3 separate regions of the Homo sapiens genome follow, and all the other regions are linked to region 1. Evidence: fine-mapped expression QTL. A gene starts in region 1. Each other region holds a variant in brackets. All regions are shown on one strand. Distances are between the middles of the regions. Region 1 holds the start of ZFAND2A (zinc finger AN1-type containing 2A). Region 2 overlaps CHLSN (cholesin). Region 3 has its middle 11 kb from the start of UNCX.

Region 1 (8,172 bases):
ATCTGCAGGAGGCTGAGGCAGGAGCATCGCTTGAACCCAGGAGGCAGAAGTTGCAGTGAGCCAAGATCGCACCACTGTACTCCAGCCTGGGCGACTGAGCGAGACTCCGTCTCAACAACAAAAAAAAACTGAATGGGGTCTGAGAATCAGAACTTAGTATTGTTTCTTTTCTTTTTTTGAGACAGAGCTTCACTCTGTCAACCAGGCTGGAGTGTAGTGGCACAATCTAGGCTCACTGCAACTTCCACCTCCCAGGTTCAAGCGATTCTTCTGCCTTAACATCCTGAGCAGCTGGAATTACAGGTGCGCCGCGCCCCCCACCACACCTGGCCAATTTTTTTGTTTTGTTTTGTTTTGAGATGGAGTCTCACTGTTGCCCAAGCTGGAGTGCAGTGGGGCGATCTCAGCTCACTGCAACCTCCACCCCCGAGATTCTCCTGCCGCAGCCTCCCGAGTAGCTGGGATTACAGGTGTGCACCACCATGCCCGGCTAATGTCTGTATTTTTACTAGAGAAGGAGTTTCACCATACTGGTCAGGCTGGTCTCAAACTCCTGACCTCAGGTGATCCACCCGCCTTGGCCTCCCCAAGTGCTGGAATTACATGCGTGAGCCACCGTACCTGGCCACACGTAGTTTCTTGATTGCAAGAAGGCTGTCATGTGCCTAAGGGAGAAAAAGACGTGCTGATCAACTTCAGTCAGGCATGAGTGACAGAGGTACTGGCCATGAATTCCATGTTAATGAATCAACTAGACATTATTAAATAAGGAACCTTGAGAGAGAGACATGTACAACAAGGTTAACGATGAACTGCTTAACAAAAATGCTGTGGCCAGCGGCTCGGAGGAACCTGACTCTGTATTTCCCCGGGAGCCAGTGCCTATGGGTGTTACTCACCAACACTCACGATAATTAGATGATTCCAGGTTTCCTGCGACTTTGCAGAACTATCACTGAGCAACGCAAGGTGAAACATAAGCAGGGCCACTCACGTTTGCTTTTTTCACAAGGTCAGACTTTTATTGATACTTAATCAGAAAAGCCGCAACTACACAGGTTTCCCAAGGTGGCAATTCCCCTTAGCACAGCCCGTTCACTCGGTGGCCACAGCCCCGGGCATTCAGGCTCAGACCACTCCACAGGTGAGTCAACACTGCAAACCAAAGATAGTAGTAAACTTAATACATAAATGTTACAGATTATGGATTAAAATGTCCACTTACATCAAGAGAAAAGGGGGGCAGGCCGGGCACAGTGCCTCACGCCTGTAATCCCAGCACTTGGGGAGGCCAAGGCGGATGGATCACCTGACCAGCCTGGCTAACATGATGAAACCCCATCTCTTCCTAAAATACAAAACAATTAGCTGTGCGTGGTGGTGTGTACCTGTAATCCTACTTGGGAGGCTGAGGTGGGAGAATCACTTGAACCTGCAAGGCGGAGGTTGCAATGAGCCGAGACCGAGTCATTGCACTCCAGCCTGGGCAACAAGAATGAAACTCTGTCTCAGAAAAAAAAAAAAAAAGAAAAAGAAAAAAAAAGAAAATGTGGGTAAAACAGGGTTAACGAACCAGTCCAAGGAGAGCGATGTGGCCAAGGAGGAGGTCCTGCACTGATCCAGACATCTTGAAAGGTGGGAGTCCGGGCCTGGGCAGAGCCTTCAAGGGGAGATGTTGTGTGATTGGGAGGGACAGCAAGATGGAGCCAGTCACCACCGCCGTGCAGCTGGTGAGGTCCTGCTCTTTTCACAGCCCTTGAGTTCTCTGGTGAAAACCGAGAGTAAAGACTGTACAATAAGCCGGGCACAGTGGCTCATGTTCTGTAATCCCAGCGCTTTGGGAAGCTGAGGCAGAGGGATCACCTGAGGTCAGGAGTTCAAGACCAGCCTGGGCTACATAGCAAAACCCCGTATCTACAAAAAATACAAAAATTAGCCAGGCATGATGGCGCATGCCTGTAGCTCCCGCTACTCAGGAGCCTGAGGAAGAAGGATGGCTTGAGCCTGGGAGGTGGAGGCTGCAGTGAGCTGTGATCATCCCAGTGCCCTTCAGCCTGAGCCACAGAGGAAGACACTGTCTAAAGAAAAACAACAAGCTGGGCGCAGTGGCTCACGCCTGTAATGCCAGTACTTTGGGAGGCCGAGGCAGGCAGATCACCTGAGGTTGGGAGTTTGAGACCAGCCTGACCAATATGGAGAAACCCCCGTCTCTACTAAAAATACAAAATTAGCCGGGCCTGGTGGTGCATGCCTGTAATCCCAGCTACTTGGGAGACTGAGGCAGGAGAATCGCTTGAACCCAGGAGGTGGTGGTTCCGGTGAGCCGAGATCACACCACTGCACTCCAGCCTGGGCAACAAGAGTGAAACTCCATCTCAAAACAACAAACAAAAAACAAAACAAGAAAAAGCATGCCTGGTTGTGTCTGTCCTTACCTGATTGGGCATGGTCTCTATTGATTAGGCGACCATCTGGTCTGGTTGGCACGACGCTTTTTGGGTTTGAGGAAGGGTCTGCTCTGCTGCCCAGGCTCTAGTGCAGGGCGCATTCACAGCTGACTTATGCCTCCACCTCCCAAGAGGCTGGGACTGCAGGTGCATGCCACCATGCTGCGTTCATTTCTTATTTTTGTAGAGACAGGGTTTCGTCATGTTCACCAGGCTGGTCTTGAACTCCTGTCAGGCCTCTGAGCCCAAGCTAAGCCATCATATCCCCAGTGACCTGCATGTATACATCCAGATGGCCTGAAGCAACTGAAGATCCACAAAAGAAGTGAAAACAGCCTTAACTGATGACATTCCACCCTTGTAATTTGTTTCTGCCCCATCCTAACTGATCAATGTACTTTGTAATCTCCTCTACCCTTAAGAAGGTTCTTTGTAATTCTCCCCACCCTTGAGAATGTACCTTATGAGATCCACCACCTGCCTGCAAAACATTGCTCCTAACTCCACCGTCTATCCCAAAACCTGTAAGAACTAATGATAATCCCATCGCCCTTTGCTGACTCTCTTTTCCGACTCAGCCGGGCTGCACCCGGGTGAAATAAACAGCCTTGTTGCTCACACAAAGCCTGTTTGGTGGTCTCTTCACACAGACATGTGAGACACTAACCTCAGGCCATCCTCCCACCTCGGCCTCCCAAAGTGCCGGGATTACAGGCCTGAGCCACCGTGCACCGTCCGGCTAATATTTTATTTCTGCAGAGATGGGGTCTCGCTATGTTGCCCAGGCTGGTCTCCATGTCCTGGGCCCACGCCCTCCTCCTGCCCAGCTGGGCGGGGTCTTACCCAGGCGGAGCCCCTTACGTGCAGGGCGTTCTGTGCAGTGACCGCGGCCCTGGGCAGAGCCAACCCCACGCGGCCACATAACCGTCCAGGGGGCGGGGGGCAGCGCGGTGAAATGGAAAAGGATTTAACTGGGGGATCTAGGTGCTGGGGACACTGACATTTTCGGTATTATTCTTGAAGCTTTTCCCTAAGTTTGAAATTACCTAAAAACACGTTGTTTTGAGATGGAGGCCTCCTGGGGCCCGCAGGATGCGCGGCCGCGGGCGGGTGCCCGGGGCGGGAGGCGCCGGATGGGTCGCTAGGCCTCCTCCCTCAGGCCGGCCTCGCGCTCCTACCCCGCAGGACCCCGGCCGCAGCCCTGAGTCAGCTTCCCCGCTCCTCGCCCGCCCGGCTGCGCCTGCGCGGAGCCGCCTCACTGTGACCCAGCAAGCGCGCCGCCTGCGAGAAGCGACCGGACACTTCGAGAAGGGAAGTGGAGAAGCGAGGAGTGGGCGGGCCTGCGGGGCGCGGCGGGGCGGGATTGGCCGGATGGCTGGTGTCGTCTTCGGTGTGCGCCGGCGCCACTGGGCCGCGGCCTGGCGGGATTGGCCGGTCTGCGGGTGACGTTGTCGGGGCGCGCCCGGAAACCCCAAGGCCCAGACGGCTCTCAGATCCGGGGGCTGCGGATAAATCCCCGTAGGCCGCGGGCAGCGAGATGTTGCGTTCCGGTGTGGGTGTGGGTGTGCCTCCGACGGCGTCTCGGTGCCAGTGTCGAGGTTCTTTCTGCTTAGCTACCCGGAGCCGACTACGGAGGAGGACACCTGAGTTTACGTCTCTTCCATCTGCTGCTCACCTCAGCTGCCTGGGTCCCCGACGAGAGCCAGGTACGGGGCCGGGATTGCGCAGACAGGGTCTGCCGGGGGTCGGGCCTGCCTTGAGGTCAGGTTGCTCGGGGGTTCGGCCTGTCTGCTAGGAGTGCGGCTGCTGAAAGTCCGGCTGCTTGCTGGAGGTCAGGCTGCTGGGGGTCCGGCCTGTCTGCTGGGGACCGGGCCTGCCGGGGTCTGGCTGCTGGGGGTCCGGCCTGTCTGCTGGGGACCGGGCCTGCCGGGGTCTGGCTGTTGGGGGTCCGGCTGTCTGCTGGGGACCGGGCCTGCCGGGGTCTGGCTGCTGGGGGTCCGGCCTGTCTGCTGGGGACCGGGCCTGCCGGGGTCTGGCTGCTGGGGGTCCGGCCTGTCTGCTGGGGACCGGGCCTGCCGGGGTCTGGCTGTTGGGGGTCCGGCCTGTCTGCTGGGGACCGGGCCTGCCGGGGTCTGGCTGTTGGGGGTCCGGCTGTCTGCTGGGGACCGGGCCTGCCGGGGTCTGGCTGCTGGGGGTCCGGCCTGTCTGCTGGGAGTCCGGCTGTCTGCTGGGGGCCGGGCCTGCCATCGGGGCCGTAGTACCGGGTCGCACGGGGTCGTTAACCCGCCAGCCGAGTGACAGCCACGTAGATGTGTGTTTTCTTGCTGCGGGCCCGGCCCGCCAGGGTAGGGTGTTGGTTTCCTAGGACGGGTGCTGTGCGTCCAGAACAAAATCATTTGGGGATTCACATCAAACTCTTGTGAATTCCTTGAACAAAACAATTTCGGAACGCCTGCTGTGTGTCGGGCACCGGGAGCTAATAGTAAAGCAGCGGATCTGTAGTTGGAAGCTGTGGGCGAAGGAGGGCTGGGAAAGGACTAATGGGCACCTTAAGTAGCGGGCGTGTAACATAGAGGGAACTGGGGAGGGTGGGAATGGCTTTAAACTGAGGCGGGAGGGGATAACTAGACGTTTGCCATGGGCGAGAGTGTTCCAGTCTTAGGCGACAGTCTAGGAGGCCTCCAGGAGTGGGGAGAGAGCTGATGGGAAGGTCAGGAAAAGGCCCCGGGAGGGGCTGGTGAGTACTAGATGACGGGACCTCGTGAGCCCCAGGAAAAGGCCCCGGGAGGGCTGGTGGGTACTAGATCATGGAGGGGACCTCGTGAGCCCCTTGATTCTCTCTCGAGTGCGGTAGTTTCACCAGCTGTCTGCCTGTTTTCCATAGTGACTTAACAGCTTGCGCTTCTCCCTGATCAACTCCAGGTTGATGTCATCGAGGAATAAGTTCACAGTAAGATTCAATGCCTAAGGGAGTTGAAGAGAGAGGCGAGGGACAGAGTTAAATCTTCTCTGGATAATGGAGTCAACTGATGTGATTTAGCACCTAGTAACAGAGTTTTGTTTATGTGAACAAGTATATTCCATGGATAAAATTGTGACTTAAAATTCACCAAAGTCGTAATCATCACTGGCAGCTGTGTGAATTAGCTCTCGCCCCCTCAGTGTGAGTTTAAATAGAAACCCGAGTTCAAGGAGTGCTTCATAGACTAGGAATTAAAAGGCCTGTGAAGGAGTCCGTGTCTCTTAATGGGGTTGACTACGAATGGCGGACACCTGGTATTTGTACTAAAACTCCATGGAATGCTCCCCACACAGTGCGTTTGTTGACTTTCATTAGCTGTAATTACATTGTAAATCCTGGTGACTGAAGGGCAGTCCAGCTTTCCTCCTAACTATTCTGATTCTCTTGTAGGTGACACTTAACTCCGCCATCTGCGTTTTGAGCACTGTTCTCATAATGGAGTTTCCTGATTTGGGGAAGCATTGTTCAGAAAAGACTTGCAAGCAGCTAGGTGAGTACTTTTAAGAGACTTAATAGAAAATGGTATTTTGTTGGGGGAAAGCTGGCTGTTCTGTTAATTAGCTGATAATTGTGTCTTGGCCTTCCTGGCTCCTCAGTATTGGGAACTGTGCTGGTGCAGGTTCTGTTTGACACTTAGCATCCACCAGAGGCTGGGTGCAGGAGTGCAGGCTGGCTAGCAGGGCCAGGTGGATCCAGGGGGCTGCTGGAATACTTGCGATGCCATAGGGGGTCTCTAGAAGACAGCCTGACCCTGGGATTGTTTTCACATGTGTGGCCCTCGAGGACCTGTCCATCTCATAGGCCTAAAACACTTAGTGTAGGTAAACACTTTGATAGTACTATCTGGAAGTATTTTGTTCCAGTCGTTAAAACACTTCCCTGTTTTTTGTTTTTTAGATTTTCTTCCAGTAAAATGTGATGCATGTAAACAAGATTTCTGTAAAGATCATTTTCCATACGCTGCACATAAGTGTCCGTTTGCATTCCAGAAGGTAATTGATCCTTTGTTCAAAAGATTCTCATCTTCACCGTCTGAAGCTGCACTGTCTTGCTGGTATGGTAGGGACTAGCGACGTATGGCTAACTCATTGAAAATTAAATTTTAAAATCCAGTTTTTCAGTCCCACTAGCCTCGTTTCAGGTGCCTGCTGTTAGGCAGTACAGAGGAGCGTGTCTGCCCTCACAGGACATTCTGTTGGATGACTCTCAGACAACTGAGATCTTATTTTCAGGGACTCATGGAGTCACTTAGTTGTAACCTTATGTTCCAAGCTTACTTTAGATGTTCAAATACTTGGTTCCTTTGATCTGTTACACCATAGCTGTTACACCATAGCTGTGTCTTCACCAGATGCAAGAAAGATTTTAATATTTGACTTGGAAGCCAATCAGGAAGGCAGTAAATACGCTTATTGATTTGAATAACTGCAGCCTTGACATAGTATTTAGGTGACTCCCAGAGTACACAGCAGAAACTGAAAGAGGACCTAAGGAAATGAGCTTGCCCCGAGTCCAGAGGTTTGAGACTTGTTGTTGACTTTTCAGATGGTTCCCAGCCCGTGTTTACTTTGTCTCTGGATGGGTCACAGGTCATTTTAGTGAACTCTGCCACTTGACCGTGGTGGCAGTGGTAATGTGGGTGGCCCAGCATTCTGTGCTTTGACCAGTGTTGGCCAGGGTCTGACCCTCCAGCCATTTTTAGGCCATCACGGTGGGTGGGGAGGGTGACTCACATTCCCTGCGTTTACTAGGCACGGATGACTAAGCCAGACTGCCCAGCTTGTCTTCCCACTGCCCCTTCCTGCCCCAGCATGGGGTGGGGTCTGGCTGGAGACCGTTTACTAATACTTTATTTCATTTGACCAAATGAGGAAGCACCACCACCTGTGACTCTCCCAGCTCGGGCTGTAGACGGGTGTGCTCATAATTCCGTGAGCACCTGCCACCCGTTCCATGTCGGTTGCCACCTCGGTTTTCTCATTGACCTTTCCATCAATTCCTGCCCTGGCTCAGGTTTTTAGCCATGCTGGGCGTTAGCTGCTGGGCGGTCCACCCCTTCGGAGCCCCCAGCTCAGGTTTTTAGCCTTGCTGGGCCTTCAGCTGCTGGGCGGTCCACCCCTTCGGAGCCCCCAGCTCAGGTTTTTAGCCTTGCTGGGCCTTCAGCTGCTGGGCGGTCCACCCCTTCGGAGCCCCCAGCTCAGGTTTTTAGCCTTGCTGGGCCTTCAGCTGCTGGGCGGTCCACCCCTTCGGAGCCCCCAGCTCAGGTTTTTAGCCTTGCTGGGCCTTCAGCTGCTGGGCGGTCCACCCCTTCGGAGCCCCCAGCTCAGGTTTTTAGCCTTGCTGGGCCTTCAGCTGCTGGGCGGTCCACCCCTTCGGAGCCCCCAGCTCAGGTTTTTAGCCTTGCTGGGCCTTCAGCTGCTGGGCGGTCCACCCCTTCGGAGCCCCCAGCTCAGGTTTTTAGCCTTGCTGGGCCTTCAGCTGCTGGGCAGTCCACCCCTTCGGAGCCCCCAGCTCAGGTTTTTAGCCTTGCTGGGCGGTCCACCCCTTTGGAGCCCTCACAACCTTGGCCTGCAGCCAGTGACGGTCGTTAGTACCTGGGAGCTCACCCTAGGTACACGTGGCCTCATCTGGGCGCAAGCAACTCTCTGTGTACGTAGAAGCCACTGGGGAAACCGCAAAGGGATCAGGCCGTTGGCGACTGAG
Region 2 (8,172 bases), 79 kb after region 1:
CAACGTCTCTAACCTTCCTGAGCCTCAGTGCCCATCTGTACAGTGGGGGTGCGTGGGTCTACACGGTTCTGTGAGATCCCACACACCCCTTGTCTCTGCTGGGCGGAGTGAGGCTTCCCTTCCCACCAACTGCTGCTCCTTTTCAAGGGGAGCGGTCCACCAGGGGCAAGGGTGGGGCGGCACTGCCTGAGATTAGCCCAGTCCTGGCTCATTCGCTTCTCCCCCATAGGCACAAGGGAGGGAGCAGTTGGTTGGAGGTGCTCACAGTACCACGCGCCGGATCCACCTTACAGGGGAGACATCAAGCTGTGTGCAGAAGGAATTCTAGAGCTAACACATGCTGGAAGACAGCCCGAGGTTCGGAGAAGTGCGCCGTGTCTCACATGCCAGGCGGACACATTCTCTGATGATGGAGAGTCAAGGGAGGCCGAGAGCCCCTTCCCACGCCCCCGGGAGGGCATCGCTGGCGTCCCCCGCCTCCGCGTGACATGCAGGAGCACCCTCGGGCATCCGATCCTCACAGGCCTGGAGCATTAAGGAGACATGCACCAGCAGCCCCTTTATAGAAAGAGCCCAGGTCCCAAGGAAGCTGTGTGTGGGGTGTGCGGGTTTTGCCGCACCAGTGGCAGGCGGGGTTGGAACTCTGCTCCAATTTCTGCATTCCGTGCCATATCCTGACTTTAGGGACATCCTGTGACCTCCCCTCAGACAGACTTGCCATGTCTTCCATCTGTTCCATTCCGGCCTGGGGAGGTTAGCTGCTGTCAGGACGTGGTGCGGCCCACAGTGACTTCGTCTCTCTTGTTCCTTCAGAAGCACGCAGGCCGTGGCTCCGCGCCAGGTTGGAGCCTTTCATTCAGGGTGTGTGCCTGCCGAGCCCGGAAACAGTGCGGTGAGGGGCAGGGCATCCTGGTTTTCTGCTGTGTCGCCTGGCACTGGTGGACGTGGGCGCGTCGGTGCCGCCGTCCTGTCCCTGTTTGGTGTCTGCAGCTGGAGGGCCCAGTTAACGGTGGGTGTGTGCAGACCACAGTTGACCACAGCATGCTGAGCACGGAAGCTCAGGTGCTCCCGTCGTCTGCGCCTCCACACTCTCGTGTTTTTTTTTGTTTTTTTTGTTTTTTTTTTGAGATGGAGTCTTGCTCTGTCGCCCAGGCTGGAGTGCAGTGGTGCGAACTCCACTCACTGCAAGCTCCACCTCCCGGGTTCACACCGTTCTCCTGCCTCAGCCTCCCGAGTAGCTGGGACTACAGGCGTCTGCCACCAGGCCCGGCTAATTTTTTGTATTTTTTTTTAGTAGAGATGGGGTTTTACTGTGTTAGCCAGGATGGTCTCGATCTCCTGACCTCGTGATCCACCCGCCTCACCCTCCCAAAGTGCTGGGATTACAGGCTTGAGCCACCGCGCCCGGCCCACACTCTCATCTTCTATCACTTTCCCTCACAAGACGGAATTTGCTGCACTCAGAGACCATCTGGCCCGTCAGCCCCTGGGCGTGACTCCAGCACTGAAGGCGCGTGCGGCTGCTGGCCTACAAGGCATTGGCAGTTTTGCGGGTCTCCCAGCAGGGCCCCCTCAGTGGTTGCTGGGAGCATTCTGGGCGCATCCTTGGGTTCTCTGGGAGCGTCGTGCCAGGGGCACTTTACAGAAGAGTGGGCAGGGTGGTGCTGGCTGAGCTCTGCCCTTGGGGGACCCTCCGCCCCCAGGAGCACATGGCGGAATATCCGAGGAGAGGCCAGCACCTGGGCATTGTCCCAGCCCCACCTCGGTCACTGCCAGGCAGTTCCTCAAGGAGCCTCGGGGAGGCTCCTCCCACCCCACCTCAGTCTGATTTTATCTGTTTGAACGTAAGACATCGTGAACCCTTTCTTTGGATAAATGCAAATGACGCATCCTCTCTTCAGTAGCACCACACTCCCCGGTGCTTCCTTAGTTCTCTGCGGGCGCTGGATCTTCCCCTTGGTGGGAACATGGAACACTGCCTGTTCTCTGCGTTCTCTGTGTCCAGAGGGTTACGAGATGGGGCAGTGGCAGGAGCTGGACACAGGACCAGGATCATGCAGCACCTGCCCTGCCCCCCAGGGGCTGTGATATGCTTTGGGATGCCCACCCCATGAAGCCCACTATTCTGGAAGCTGCAGTCATCTCTGCCCATCGGTGGCCTGGCCGGCTTTGGGTCTTGGGTGAGAGTGTGGTGCGTGGCCCATGCTGGCCCCTCCTCCTGTGAGCCCGTCCCAGCCACTCACAGCACCTGTTTAACCCCATTCACTTTGTCTTTAAGTGGGGATGGATCATCCCCTGCTCTGAGTAACTCAGACCAACGGCCCATGAAGACTGTGCTGTAGAGTCCTGTGCACGCAGCGCCCTCGGGCCCCATTGTGATGTGCCTCACAAGCACCTCGCCCCCGCCACCCTCTCTCACCCCCCAGGCACACAGGGCGCCGCGGAGCCACGCGCTGGGCGGGAGCACTCTGACCTTACCGTGAGGGGACGTCCACCTGCACCCGACAGTGATGAGTGGTTCCCAGGACTCCGAGTACCATGGAATGAAGAACAATGGTCAGACTGAGAGGAAGTGGTTTGGAATGTTTGTTTAATTAAGGCAAATTGGAAACAAGATCCTTTTAACATGGACTGCAGGTCTGAAAGCTGCGTGAGGCTGTCCAGATGTCCCCTCCCGGCGGCTGTCAGCTGCAGGCGCTTTGTGTGGGAGTGCGTGCTCCTGCGGGGCGGCGTTTGTGGATGTCGCCGTCAGGTGCTGTCCCCGTTCGCGGGGTCCGCCCTGCTCTCCCGTGCGGTCATAGCCAGGCCTGGCCACCTGGTGGGTGGGGGGACAGGCACACACCTGAACTTGGCCCCGAGAACGGAGTCTGGAGCTGAGGTGAAGGCTGCTGACTGCTTTCTCCTTATTACTGGGCTTTTATCGTGGACAGGAGGGGCCCCTGTGCAGGCAGAAGAAAGCCATGGGTTCGAGAGGCCTCCCTGTCCCTCCCCCAGGCTGCAGTGGGCAGAAGAAAGCCATGGGTTCGAGAGGCCTCCCTGTCCCTCCCCCAGGCTGCGCCTTGTCTGGGTCGGGGCTTCCAGGTTCCTCGACTGGCTCCAGCTCCACAGCCTGTGTGCTGTGTATGGCATGAGGTCCTGGTACCTGGCTACCAAACGACGTAAGCGTGACCTGAGCCCTGGGTCTCAGCTTCCCCGTCCGCGTGGCGGATGCCAGCACAGGCTTTCTGGCTCCAGTCCAGGCTGCCCCCTTGCCGCCACCCCTGCGCCGTGCCAAGCCCCGCTCGAGCCCGCCGTGTTTGTACTTAGGTTTTGTTCTGGTTCTTCTGCCCGGGCTCGGGCTCTACAAGGAAAGGGAAGAATTCTGAGTGGTCCCAGACAGGTTCCCCTTCCCCCACCTTTCATGGCCCCCTGACTTGGGGGTCTTAGGAGAGGGGGTCCTCACAGTTATCCCCGAAGCCCTCTCAAATCCCAGCCTGGCAAGGTCAGTCTGGTGGAGCGGGGCTGGGTGTGCTTAGCTCACCCCCACCCGGCCTAGGCACCAAGCCCGTCTCCCAGCGGCACTGCCCGGCACCGTCCCCGGCCCTGGTGGCCCTGGATGACGGCACGCGGGGAGGGACCAAGCCCTTTGGGAGCTGCAGGTTGCAGCCTTGCTGGGCTGCCGGGTGGGGGGCGTGCTCCCCCTCCTCCACTGCTACCACTGCATAGTCTAAGAGGCAGAGTAACAAATGCAGGGCCGTGCAGGCTCCAGCTCGGCCGGCCTTCCTGTTCTTCCCACCTGGCCCCCTGCACCCTGGGCCTTGACAGCCTGGCACCTTCTCCCCGACCTTACCCGCAAAGGCAGTTCATGCAGAGTGGGACGAGGTGCAGGGCCCAGGCCAAGCGGCTCTCAGCCCACCCTCTCTCACTGAGAGCTTCCCATGTGCGTGGCACTGTGTATATAATTCGCCGTGACCCTCTGCAGCCGAGGTCACGGAGTCAGAGGGATGAGGTCATTGCTGCTGGTACCCAGCTGCTTAACGATGTGTCGGCAGTCTGAGCCTGGGTGCCTTAGCCGAGAACCTGTAGTTTTCAGATGATCATTTCTGAGAATTTGTGTGCAGTAAAATACTCCTTTTGGCTTTCACCACAGAGGCATCTAGTCGTGGAAGCACGGTGCTCGCAGGCAGCGCACAAACCGTCCTGTTCCAGACTCCTCTGCCCGTCCCTGGGTGGTCAGCCCCTCCCTCCACCCAACCTGGCGGCCGTGCGGCTGCACTCTGCTCCCGTGATCAGACTCCCCGGACCGTCACGCGGGTGGCACCTGTGCGTGTGCAGCCTCCGAGCCTGGCTGTCCCCGTGCCTCCTGCGCTTGAGATGGTGTGTCACGTCGTGCACACCAGGTGGCCGTGGCTGCTCGCCACTGAGCACGGGGGGCTGTGCCGCG[G/A]TCTGTGTCCCGCCATCGTGGGAGCGACATTTGAGTTCTTTCCAGATTGTGTCTATTATAAAGCTGCTTTAAATGTTCACATACAGGGTTTCATGTGAGCGTAATTTTATTTTGGGTGGATCGCTAGGATTGGGCATCGCTGGTTCTTACAGTGTGTGCACATTTAGCTTCATACAAAGCTGCCAAAGTGGCCACTCTGTTTTGCGTTTCTGCCAGCACCTGTCCTTCTAACCCCAGGGAAAGCAAAGGGTCCTACTGAGCCCTGGAATTCCCTGGGAGGAGGGGTTGGCCCTTCACAGTCTGTTTTGGTGGCCGGTTTCCGGCCAAGAGCCAGGGGCTTGTGGGACTCGTTCCTGAGCCACGCAGAGGGGCTGCCAAGGTCAGGTTCGGGGCCTGGGGGAACTCCCCAAAGCCGGGACCTTGAGAATTGTGTGTTCTTGACGGCAGCATGGGCCCTCGCTGCTTAAACAACCCTTCAGAGAGGTTCTAGAAAGCATGGGCGCCACTTCTCCAGGGCTGCTTCCCCAGAGCTGGGAGGCCGGGGACTCCAGTGGTGAGGGCTGGTGGCTCCTGCAGGGCCCTGGACCCTCTGGAGGGCATCTGGGAGTCACCCCTGCCCCTGAGCCCTCCCAGCCCCCGCCAGGGCCTGCCTGCCACGGGGCCCCTCAGAGGAGCTGCTGCCCCTGCCACTTCCCGTCACACGTCTACATTGGGCAGGGAGGGGGGTTGTGCAGATTCCCTCAGCACGCTGGTTTATTGAATGTTTTCCCGGCCTCTTCCTGGGTTTTATTATCATTTTTAATGGATAAGTAGTTATAGGCTGTGGTGGTAGCTCACGAAACCGTCTCCCCAGCGTAGACAGTTGAGTGGCTTCTGAACTGCTTTTCCAGACCTGCGCTTGTCTTTCATACCATCCCAGGATGGTTCACACGTCACTGTTTCTGTGCAAAAGCAGCATAAGCTTTTGAGGTCACAATTCTCGTGTGATTTGAGGTGTCCCCATAGGGAGGTGGACAGCAGACGAGCAGCCGGGCGTTGCCTGCCTGGGGACCCAGGATGGCTGTGAAGGTCTGTGGCCGCCCCTCCGCAGCCTCAGGTGTGTCCCTGTGGCCTGCGGATGTCAGCTTCGAGTGGCTTGGGAGGTTTGTTTGCGGCTGTTGACTTCCTGCTCCTCCCGTAGCCACCTTTGTGCCCTGCTGGTCTTGTGACCCTGGCCCTCCCTCTCCAAAGGCCTCGCTGCCTCCTCAGCCGGCCATTCACCAGCAGTCTTGACAGAGCCCTGACCCGCTGCCTCGCTGCCTCCTCAGCCGGCCATTCACCAGCAGTCTTGACAGAGCCCTGACCCGCTGCCTCGCTGCCTCCTCAGCCGGCCATTCACCAGCAGTCTTGATGGAGCCCTGACCCGCTGGGGTGGGGGATGGAGCTGAGTGTTTGGGGGAAGGCTGAGCTGGGGCTTGAGGGGGCACCTGGCCAGCCAGAGCCAAACAGGTGAGCCGCAGGCTCTGCTTCACTCCATGTGCCCCTCACAGAGCTCCCAGCCTCTGTCTGGAGCAGGCACTGTCCCGGGGTCCCAGTGGGCAGGTGGGCACATGGCCTGGCTATGAGTTCTGCATGGTTGTAAGGCAGCGAAGCCCAGGTTTTCACTGGGCCAGCCTGTGATCCTGCAGACTAGCCAACCCCCCGGGAGTGCATTTGGGCCCTGTCGTGAGCATCTTGGTGGGAGTTTGAGGAGACGAGATGAACCGGCGTGGGGGGCGTTAGGCCTCGCCTGTGGTCACGGGAGTGTGGGGTGCAGGAGCATCTCACAGGACTCCCACCTGAGCGCAGCGCCTGCCTTGTGCAGAGCCTGGCTGGGGTCCCTGCTTGCTGTGGAAGATTTAACCCCAGGTCTCACGGGGCCCCCTTCCCAGGCCTCATGGGGCCCCCTTCGCAGGCCTTCGTCTTCTGGGTGGGAAAACTGATGTGCCTGAGCCCCCCCCCACCCCGCAGCTGGTGGAAAGAATCCTCCATTCAGGTTTCGGGCCCTGTGAAAATATACGCTCTCCAGGCGTGCCCACTATAGGGCACCCGCTGTGCTCTGCCACGCGAACTGTCTCCACTTCCTTGCCCTGCCGCAGAAATCCCACCATAGCTGCATATCTGGCAGCTGAGCCAAAACCCTGACGTGTTTTCTGACTGTCCGCAGACCTCGTCCAGCTCCGTCTTCAGGAGACAGGACTAGAGCCACCGTGAATCTCAGTCATTTCCAATCCCAAACGCTGTAAAAATACACCGTATTTTCTTTTATTTAATGGGGCCAATCTGTAGTATAGAGAAGCTTTCGTTTTAGGAGAGAAACTTCCCACCACTGTGAAGTTGCTCCCATGTCCCCGCACACACGCCCAGCGGTCACGGAGCAGTTGGCGGCAGAGGACGCCGAGGCCGCGCTGGGGCTGCTGCTTCCCAGAGAAAGTACACAAAGCATTTCCCTCTGCCCAAGGCCAGCCGTGGCACCGAGGCCCGCCCTTGTGTCTGTCCCGCGCTTCCTTCAGTTGTTCTGTGCTCACCGAAAACAGGCACAGAAAACCTAGAGTTGTGTAAAGAAGACAGGAATCTGGTCTGAAGCCGCTCACACCACACTCAATGCACGTAAGCAGCGTCTGGCTTGCCCGTGTGACCTAGGAAAATTCAAACTAGCCCTGGTAGGAGGCAGCCAGCTTAGTACTGCAGAGGGAAAAGGTGGTGTGTGCCTGTGCACGGGGCACCTGAGGGCTTGCACGTTCAGAAAGCAGCCCTGCCAGAGCAACTTCAAATAGGACCTGGGGCCGGGCGCGGTGGCTCACGCCTGTAATCCCAGCACTCTGGGAGGACCAGAGCAACTTCAAATAGGACCTGAGGCCAGGTGCAGTGGCTCACGCCTGTAATCCCAGCACTCTGGGAGGCCGAGGCGGGCGGATCACAAGGTCAGGAGATAGAGACCATCCTGGCTAACACGGTGAAACCCCATCTCTGCTAAAAATACAAAAAATTAGCCAGGCTTGGTGGTGGAAGCCTGTAGTCCCAGCTACTTGGGAGGCTGAGGCAGGAGAATGGTGTGAACCCGGGAGGCGGAGCTTGCGGTGAGCCTAGATGGCACCACTGCACTCCAGCCTGGGCGACAGAGAGAGACTCCATCTCAAAAAAATAAAAATAAATAAAAATAGGACCTGAAAGCCCCCAAGAATACCAGGGAAAAGTGCTCAGGCCTTTGTAAGCCCAAGAGCGCCTTCCTCGGACCCTGTCGTACAGTCTCGAGCTAAGAGCCAGCATTGGCATCTGGCCCAGGCCGGGGGTCTCGGCCCTCTGCCCGCAACAGCAGGGTACCCAGAACAGCAGGAGCTCCGGACTGGACACTGGGTAACCTGAGTCTTGGCTGCAGAGCAGGGGCCAGCCCCTCGCTGACCACCCCGTAAGCCTGTGCCAGGAGCGTCACCCAGGGGTTGGGCGTGGGCTGTGCAGGAAGTGTGGCTAGAAGGCAGGTCCTCTCCCCAGCCAGGCAAGGCGTGCAAGTCCCCATGCTCTCCTCCCCCGGCTTTCCCGAGAAGGCTGTGGCGCTGGGCTGGGAAGAGTCCTGGCCAAGGCCACCGGTCCCTGAAGGGAGAGAGCCCTGCCAAGTGGAGGAAAAGATCTTGGACATTAATTCAGAGCCAGCTTCCCTCTGCGGCTTTTCCCAGGGCCAGCCCTGTTGGAAACTGAAAGCATAGACCTTTCTTACATCCCTCCCCGGTGCT
Region 3 (8,172 bases), 62 kb before region 1:
CACTCACCTTCTCCCTTCCCCTTCCTCCTGTATGTTCTGACCCTCTCTGCCCAGGGCCCAGGCGCCAGACCGCGCGCACCAAGAACAACAAAGCCAAACAGAACCGGCCCGGCCCGGGCCACGCGGGCTGCAGCGGCGCCGGCGCCGGAGCCGTGCAAGTTCCTGTTAAACCCACATTTCTATTAGTTGAAGTTAACAGGCGTAATCTTGTTTCCAGATATTTATCCACGTTCGGAGGGCCGTAGTTACATGTTTGAAGTTAGGGGGGAAAAGTGAAGGATCTGAGCTGCCATTCTAAAAATACATTAACAGTTTCCAAAATCTATATCGCTGCTTAATTAAATCTGTTATCCTGTTTGTAGGATCTGTGGCTAATTATTTAGAGTCATTTAATCTACTCAATTTGCACGTTAATTAAACAGCATCGGTTTGCAGAGCGCGGCCGGGCGGGCTCGGAGGGGCGCAGCGCCGCCTGGTGGGGATCCAGCCTGGACAGCGCGCTCGGGGCCGGAGCCGCGCGCACCGGGCCTGGATCCCGGGGTCCCGGGGCCAGAGTCCCCAGAGGGTGAGCGGCCCCGATGGTGGAGGCCGGGAGAGGGGCTGCGCGGCTTCCAGGAAACGCTCTCAGGTCATCCCGCAGGGAGACACGGGGTGGCTACGGTCAGCCGCCAGGACGCAGCTCTTGTTATTTACGGGCAGGGGGATTCATTCATTCATTCACCCATTCATTCACTCATTCACTCACTCACTCATCCATCCCTCCCTCCCTCCCTCCCTCTCCCCTGCCCCTCCTTCTGCCGCCACTCCAGGCACCGGGACGCAGCTCTTCTGTAATTTACTGTCAAGGGGATTCATTCATTCATCCATCCATTCATTCATTCATTCACTCATTCACTCATCCATCCCTCCCTCTCCCCTGCCCCTCCTTCTGCCCCCACCCCGGGCACCGGGACGCAGCTCTTCTGTTATTTACGGGCAGGGGGATTCATTCATTCATCCATTCATTCACTCACTCACTCACTCACTCATCCATCCATCCACCCCTCCCTCTCCCCTGCCCCTCCTTCCGCTCCAACCCCGGGCACCGGGACGCAGCTCTTCTGTTATTTATGGGCAGGGGGATTCATCCATTCATTCATTCATTCATTCACTCATTCACTCACTCACTCACTCACTCACTCACTCATCCATCCATCCCTCCCTCCCTCTCCCCTGCCCCTCCTTCCGCTCCAACCCCCGGCACCGGGACGCAGCTCTTCTGTTATTTACGGGCAGGGGGATTCATTCATTCATTCATTCATTCATTCACTCACTCATCCATCCATCCATCCATCCCTCCCTCCCTCTCCCCTGCCCCCTTCTGCCCCCACCCCCTGCACGGAGTGGAGGGGTCAGGGCGGGGTGCAGGCCGGGGTGCAGGACTCGCGCACGCAGCAGAAGCCGGTCTGCTCTGCGCTTCGGCACCGCTCCAGCCTGGGGCGTGGGGCCCGCGCCGGCCAGGCCTGGTTAACTGGAAAACGATGGAGCCGCGCCCCGCCCCCGCACTTGCGGCCTAATTGTTTTCCCTCGCCCGTCCCCATCTGTCCCTCTCCGCCCGTGTGTGTTTTGGCCTTTGTCTCGCTGCCCCGCGCTGACACCCTCTTTCAAAGGCCGCTTCTGTCGCCCTTCACCGATCTCTTCTGCCCCATTAACCCATCGGCACGAGGCTCCGGCAACAAAGGCCTGAAATCGGATGGACGCGCGCGCGCTCTCCCCACCGTCCGCCGCGGTCTCCGCGCCCCGCTCAGCTCGGCCCGGCCCGGCCCGATGGGGCGGGAACGGAGCTGGCCAGGAAAGTGCTCGCGGTGGTGGCCCGAGCCCGAGTCCCGCCTGCAGAAGCCGGAGCCTTGGCAGGGGCCCCGAAGCAGCTGCACCCCGGGAACGCACCGCGCGCTGCGAAAGCTAATCCGGCCGCGTCCCCCTTTGTCCCTCCCTGGATGTGAAACTGTCGAGTGGGGGGCCCAGGGCTGCGGGAGGAGAGAGGCAGGTCCTCCTCGGAGCCTGGTAAACAAAGACCAGGAAGCCGGGAACCGAACCTGGGGTGGGACCTCTTCGGATTCCCCCCACCTCCCGGAGAAGGCCACGCAGCGGCCGAACCTCAGGGCGCGCAGATGCCAGCGCTCATGCCCACGCCGCGAAACCCTTGGGGCAGGAAACCCACAATCCCGGGAGGGAGCAGGGTCCTGAGGCCCCAGGCGCCCTCTCCAACCCACCGCCCTCACGGAGGCCGGGACCTCCGTGCAGCCTCTTCGACTACTGCTCATGGGAGAGGAAGGGGTCGAGGCTTTCCCTGGGACCTGTGCAGTAGCTTGACGCCTGGCAGCTCCTTGGAGAGGGCTGGGGGCAGAGGGGAGCCTCCAAGCCGCCTGTCTCTGCAGTGCGGCCTGCATCTTCCCTCTCCTGGGCGGAGGGGTCCTCCCAGGGCTGCCTTCTTCTGACCGCTGTGGCAGGAGGAAGGTGGAGGTCACCTGAGTGTCATCCTACAGGCCACCCGAAGGTCACCTTTCTCTGAAGCGGGGCTTGTTCTCTGAAGCGGGGCTTGGGACCTCAGCAGGAGGCCTCACATTAGTCCAGCTGGTGCTGAGATGCCCATGGGTGCTTAGCCAGTGTAGTCTAGGAGTCCAGCTCAGAGAAAACTTTTTTCACCCAGCACTGACCTGTTTTTATTTTCTGTCCTATGACTCTGCAATGCTCTCTGCAGAGCCATCCTAGGAGACGCCGAGCTGGTCCCCGGGAGGATGGGGACACCTTGTGTCCAGGCTGGGTGAAGGGGTTCCAGTGTCAAACTCAGCCTGGGTTATCTTCTTGTTTTTCAAATTCATTAAACGTTTGAAATTAGGAAGTTGCAAGAACAAGAAAGGGCATAGCAAGGCCGATGCAGACCTCCCAGTCCCCTCTGCCAGGACCTCCCATGCCTGATGGGCCTCTCCATGCTCCACCCTTGCGCTCCTTGGACCAGAGGCCCAATTCTGGGAGTTCTGCCATTTCCTGCGGCTGATCTGGTGAAAGGAGGGTCTTTGTATTATTCCTTTTAGAGGGTCTGGTGGGCTCTAAGGATTCAGAAAGAGCAGGGTCTTCACTGTCTCCCTATCTCCCTTTGACTGGGGCTCAAGTCACATTTCAGTTTTTCTGCTACTGGAGTTTTTTTTTTTTTTTTTTTTTTTTTTTTTTTTTTTTTTTTGAGACGGAGTCTCACCCCGTCTCCCAGGCTGGAATGCAGTGGTGCGATCTCCATCTCGGCTCACTGTAAGCTCCACCTCCTGGGTTCACACCATTCTCCTGCCTCAGCCTCCTGAGTAGCTGGGACTACAGGCGCCCACCACACCCGGCTAATTTTTTGTATTTTTAGTAGAGACGGGGTTTCACCGTGTTAGCCAGGATGGTCTCAATCTCCTGACCTTGTGATCTGCCTGCCTCGGCCTCCCAAAGTGCTGGGATTACAGGTGTGAGCCACCGCGCCTGGCCCTGCTACAGGATTTTTATAAACCCATTTGACAACTTAGAAATCCAAGCCCTGGCCAGGCACAGTAGCTCACGCCTGTAATCCCAGCACTTTGGGAGGCCAAGGTGGGCAGATCACCTGAGGTCAGGAGTTCAAGACCAGTCTGGCCAACGTGGTGAAACCCTGTCTCTATTAAAACTACAAAAATTAGCCAGGCATGGTAGTGGGTACCTGTAATCCCAGCTATTCGGGAGGCTGAGGCAGGAGAATCGCTGGAACCCAGAAGTTGGAGGTTGCAGTAAGCTCAGATCACACCACTGCACTCCAGCCTGGGCAACAGAGTGAGACTGTCTAAAAAAAAGAAAAGAAATCCAAGGCCTGTGTCTGCCCCAGATGCAGCTTTTAGCACGTGGACTCTGGATGGGACACCAGGGGGTCTTCCATACTGGCCAACTTGTACGAGTGTTCAGGCAAAAGCTAGGGGTGAATTAAAGCTTTGAGGGCAACTCACAGAACCACTGGAGTAACTTCACGTGAGTTCCCACCCAGAGGCTGAAGACACGCAGTCTCAGCAATTGTAATAGGACTGTAACAACAGGCAAGGCTGATTTTGTGTGTGTGTGTGTGTGAGACGGAGTCTCTCTCTGTC[A/G]TTAGACTGGAGTGCAGTGGCGGGATCTCAGCTCACTGCAAACTCCGCCTCCCAGGTTCAAGCGATTCTCCTGCCTCAGCCTCCTGAGTAGCTGGGATTACAGGCATGCGTCACCATACCTGGCTAATTTTTTGTATTTTTAGTAGAGATGGGGTTTCACCATGTTGGTCAGGCTGGTCTTGATCTCCTGACCTCGTGATCCACCCACCTTGGCCTCTCAAAGCGCTGGGATTACAGGTGTGAGCCACTGCGCCCGGCCAAGGCCTATTTTTAAAATAACAGCTTTATTGAGATATCACTGGCACCATCACATCCATCCTTTTAAAGCATACAATTCGGCATCTGTATATACATCCCCAGAGCTGCGTCACCACCACCCCTATCCAGTTCTGGAACATTTTCATCACCCCGAAAAGAGACCTGGCACCCATTAGCAGTCACTCTCCGTCCCCAGCTCCCTCCCCCAGCCCCCGGCAACCACTAATCCACTTTCTGTCTCCATGGATTAGGCGAGGATAATTTTGCAAGAAGAGATCCTACCGTCTGGAAAGGAGTATAAAATGAGGAAACGGGGGGTGAGGACTGAAAATACTTTCTCCTGTGATCAACACGAGAGAAAGAAACAAGGGAAGAAATGCTACCTGGGAACTGGAGGCGGGGAAGGACCAGGAGCTGAGCTCTGCGTCCCTGTGTCCTCAGCCCCCGCCATATGGTTTAAACATCAGCACTCTTGTTTTTTTCAGAGTCTACAGACATGTTCTCATATCTCCCCAGCCCCTTCTGCTGGCAGTGTCTGCATTCTGTGGGCGCAGGGTGGCTGCCAGCATGCTGAAGGTCACAACTGTCCTCTCAGTCCGGCCCCTCCTGTGTGGCCAGCTCGGCCCCCGAGGGGTCCCTGGGGAGGATCCTCTTGGCCTACTCGTCCCCGCCACTCCCTGGTCTTGAGGACTCAATTCCGTATCTGCTGGGTTGGTGTCCTCCTACTACCTTACCAGGTTCGATTTGGAGTTTAACACACTTAAGAGAAAGGTGCGGTAGCTCACGCCTGTAATCCCAGCAGTTTGGGAGGCTGAGGCGGGCAGATCATGAGGTCAAGAGATTGATACCAGCGTGGCCAACACGGTGAAACTCCGTCTCTACTAAAAATACAAAAATTAGCTGGACATGGTGGTGCGTGCCCATAATCCCAGCTACTCGGGAGGCTGAGGTGGGAGAATCACTTGAACCCGGGAGGCGGAGGTTGCAGTGAGCCGAGATCACGCCACTGCACTGCAGCCTGGGTGACAAGAGCAAAACTCCGTCTGAAAAAAAAAAAAAAAAAAAAAAAAAAAACTTAAGAGGTTGCTCAGTTCAGAAAATGCCATTTCGTTTTCCCTGAATAAAAATACTTTTGAACTTAGCCTATTTTCACACTAGATTTTGCCCTCCCCCCAGTTCTTTACAAGCCCCGGCTCCTGACAATCTCAACGTTGGGCTTCTAATGAGTATTTTCTTGATTTACAGCAGAAATGAGCAGTTATCTGCTAATAACCCCTGAGTCTGAAATTAAAAGGGATAGAGAAAATAAACCAAATTGCAAAGATCAGCTCTCGTTAAATAAAGTCGTTGTGAAAAGACACGTAACAACGCTTTCACCCCCCAGATCAGAGACACGATGGCTCGTCATTTGAGGGTTGCAATTATTTAACACTGCTCAGTAGCCAAGGGACACTTACCCCAGAAACATTAAATGGACATTTGTTAATTAATTCTCAGCAGAGCCCTTCCAGCTACTTACACACAGACAAACTGAGGCAGGGGTGAGGGGCAGGGCGGAAGGGAGCTCTTCCCACGTCCCCCCTGCTCCATTATGACTTAGGCCCCTCCCATCTTATCAACTCGTTCCTGCCCAGGGATGTGTGACAGTCAGAGGGTGGCTAAATTGCTCTGAAGATTTCATAAACAAAGGCATAGCTAAAGGAATAATGTTCCTGTTGCCTTTGACCTTCCTACAGAGTCAGAGGTCAGTCAAATTCCACCCACCAGGAGAAAAACAAGAAACTTGAGATGGTTCACAGTAACCTCAAGTTAAGGAGTCCATGGGTAGTGAGTTCCGGGGGTGATGGGGATAGGACATCTGTCTACAGAGATATGCAGCAAGTCTGCAAGAAGAAATTACATCCCAGTTAGGGTCATGTGTGAGAACTGGTCATGAGTGCGAACTGGAGCTCACCGGTGTCGTCGTGAGTGAGGGCCAAGGTGGCAGAGAAGTTTAAACCTTCAGTCTCCCAGGTTCCCGGTTCTCCCGCCTGCCCCAGCCACCAGGGGTGTCTCCAGGCCCCACACAGGAACCTGAGAGCTGTTTGCTCTCTCTGGCTTGCTGCAAACAGCTTTCATTCCTAGACACAATTTTTTTTTTTTTGAGATGGAGTCTCACTCTGTTGCCAGGCTGGAGTGCAGTGGTGCAATCTCAGCTCGCTGCAATCTCTACTTCCCCGGTTCAAGCAATTCTCCTGCCTCAGCCTTCCGAGTAGCTGGGACTACAGGCATGTGCCACCACACCCAGCTAATTTTTGTATTTTTAGGAGAGACGGGGTTTCACCATGTCGGCCAGGCTCCTCTCCAACTCCTGACCTCAGGCGATCTGCCCACCTCAGCCTCCCAAAGTGCTGGAATTAAAGGCATGGGCCACCATGCCCGGCCCCTGGACACAACTATTAATAGCAGTGGGTCAGGGGAGTGAGCCCAGGAGACCGGGGGAATGCAGCTTCTTGGTGCTCTGTCTGAGAGACTTGCTGCCCAGCTCGCAGGGGAACGTCTGCATGGCAGGTGCAGGGGTTGCCACTCCAGGTCCCCTCCTGACCCCTACTCCCCCACACCCAGCTCATTTTCAGAACCCCTTCGTGACCTCCCGCTGGGCCATTGCAGCTCTGGGCCGGTCAGTCTGACACTGCAACGCACCCGGGGTGCAACCCACGTTCAGAATAGGCAGGAGGAGCGCTGGGGGCCTGTGTCACAATGGCCTGAGTAGAGGCTGGGTGGCCCATCGGATTCTCGGGACCACTGCAAAGCAGAGGGAGCATAGCCTGTGGGAAGCGTGAGCGGGGGCCGCCTGCTTCTCCTCCTCTGCCCGGTTACACGGGCTAGGGCAGGCTGCTGGAAGAGGCCCACCGAGTTCCCCCATGGTAGCGTCTCTGGAGTCTTGGGGCCCAGGCCACTCCCACGGAGCGGCGAAACCATGCCCTGCTCACGGGGCTGCCAGCATTGCTGAAAAGGCCTCTTTTGCTTTCATCAGCATTGTTAAAGTGCGCTGGAGACAATGGGCACCTGGCTTGTTCACCTTCAGGTTTGGCTCAGGGTCACTGGCAAAGGCGGGCCAACCTCTCTCTGCCTTCTCTAGGAAACTTCTGCATCATTTGGTTATGGCTTCGTTTCCCCCTAAATAAGATACCCTCAAACTTACTAAGACGAGAGTGACTCATTTTTTTTCATTAAAAAAATTTGTTATTATTATCAGGCCGGGCTACTAAATACTAAATATTTAATATTTTTGTATTTTGTATTTTGTATTTAGTAGAGGTTTTCACTATGTTGGCCAGGCTGGTCTCAAACTCCTGACCTCAAGCAATCCACCCACCTCAGCCTCCCAAAAAATGACTTTCAAACAGAGTTCTGTATAATGGTGAAGAACCACAGACTTCAAGATGGAGGAAACGGTCATGAGTCAATGCCTCAGCCCTCAGACAAAACACAGGAGAACAGAGACAGGGAAGAGGACCTGTGTCACCAGGAGGCTCCTGCGGCCACCTTCCTGAGAAACTGGGGGCGATGCTTTCCTGAGCTCAGGTGTGTGAACGAGAAGGTGACTGGTGTGGTGTGCGGGGGTGGCTGGGAGCTGTCCTAGAAAGAAGACTTTCGTTGTCTCCCCCGAAGGACAGGCTGTTCCAAAGTCCAGGAGAAGCTCCCACCTCCCTGAGTGCCCAGGGGTCAGAGGGGTGCAGCAACCTCGTTGCCCTGTACATGGCACACATAAAGGCCCCAGCTTGAGGCAGCATCCGGGGTC

Evidence for each region.
Region 2: its variant is fine-mapped to the expression of ZFAND2A in whole blood (INTERVAL, PIP above 0.99).
Region 3: its variant is fine-mapped to the expression of ZFAND2A in monocytes after LPS (Quach 2016, PIP 0.95).

The regions. Positions count from the first base shown.
Region 1 is chr7:1,155,945-1,164,116 of GRCh38, reverse strand. ZFAND2A (zinc finger AN1-type containing 2A) reads left to right here and starts at 3,921. Exons shown (of 5, transcript NM_182491.4): 1 at 3,921-4,153; 2 at 5,860-5,959; 3 at 6,367-6,461. The coding sequence starts at 5,905. ZFAND2A-DT (ZFAND2A divergent transcript) reads right to left here and starts at 3,743. Exons shown (of 3, transcript NR_110069.1): 1 at 3,494-3,743; 2 at 1,574-1,765. RefSeq lists enhancers at 2,765-3,277, 3,278-3,791, 3,792-4,304, 4,305-4,819 and silencers at 3,383-3,432, 3,443-3,982.
Region 2 is chr7:1,076,581-1,084,752 of GRCh38, reverse strand. All of the region lies in intron 2 of CHLSN (cholesin), which reads left to right. CHLSN-AS1 (CHLSN antisense RNA 1) reads right to left here. Exons shown (of 3, transcript NR_187853.1): 3 at 6,691-6,989. Among named protein-coding and RNA genes, the nearest start is that of GPER1, 7.4 kb to the left of the region's middle. The variant G/A (reference allele first, on the strand shown) is at 4,424.
Region 3 is chr7:1,217,980-1,226,151 of GRCh38, reverse strand. No RefSeq gene overlaps it. Among named protein-coding and RNA genes, the nearest start is that of UNCX, 11 kb to the left of the region's middle. RefSeq lists an enhancer at 1-634 and a silencer at 2,685-2,979. The variant A/G (reference allele first, on the strand shown) is at 4,131.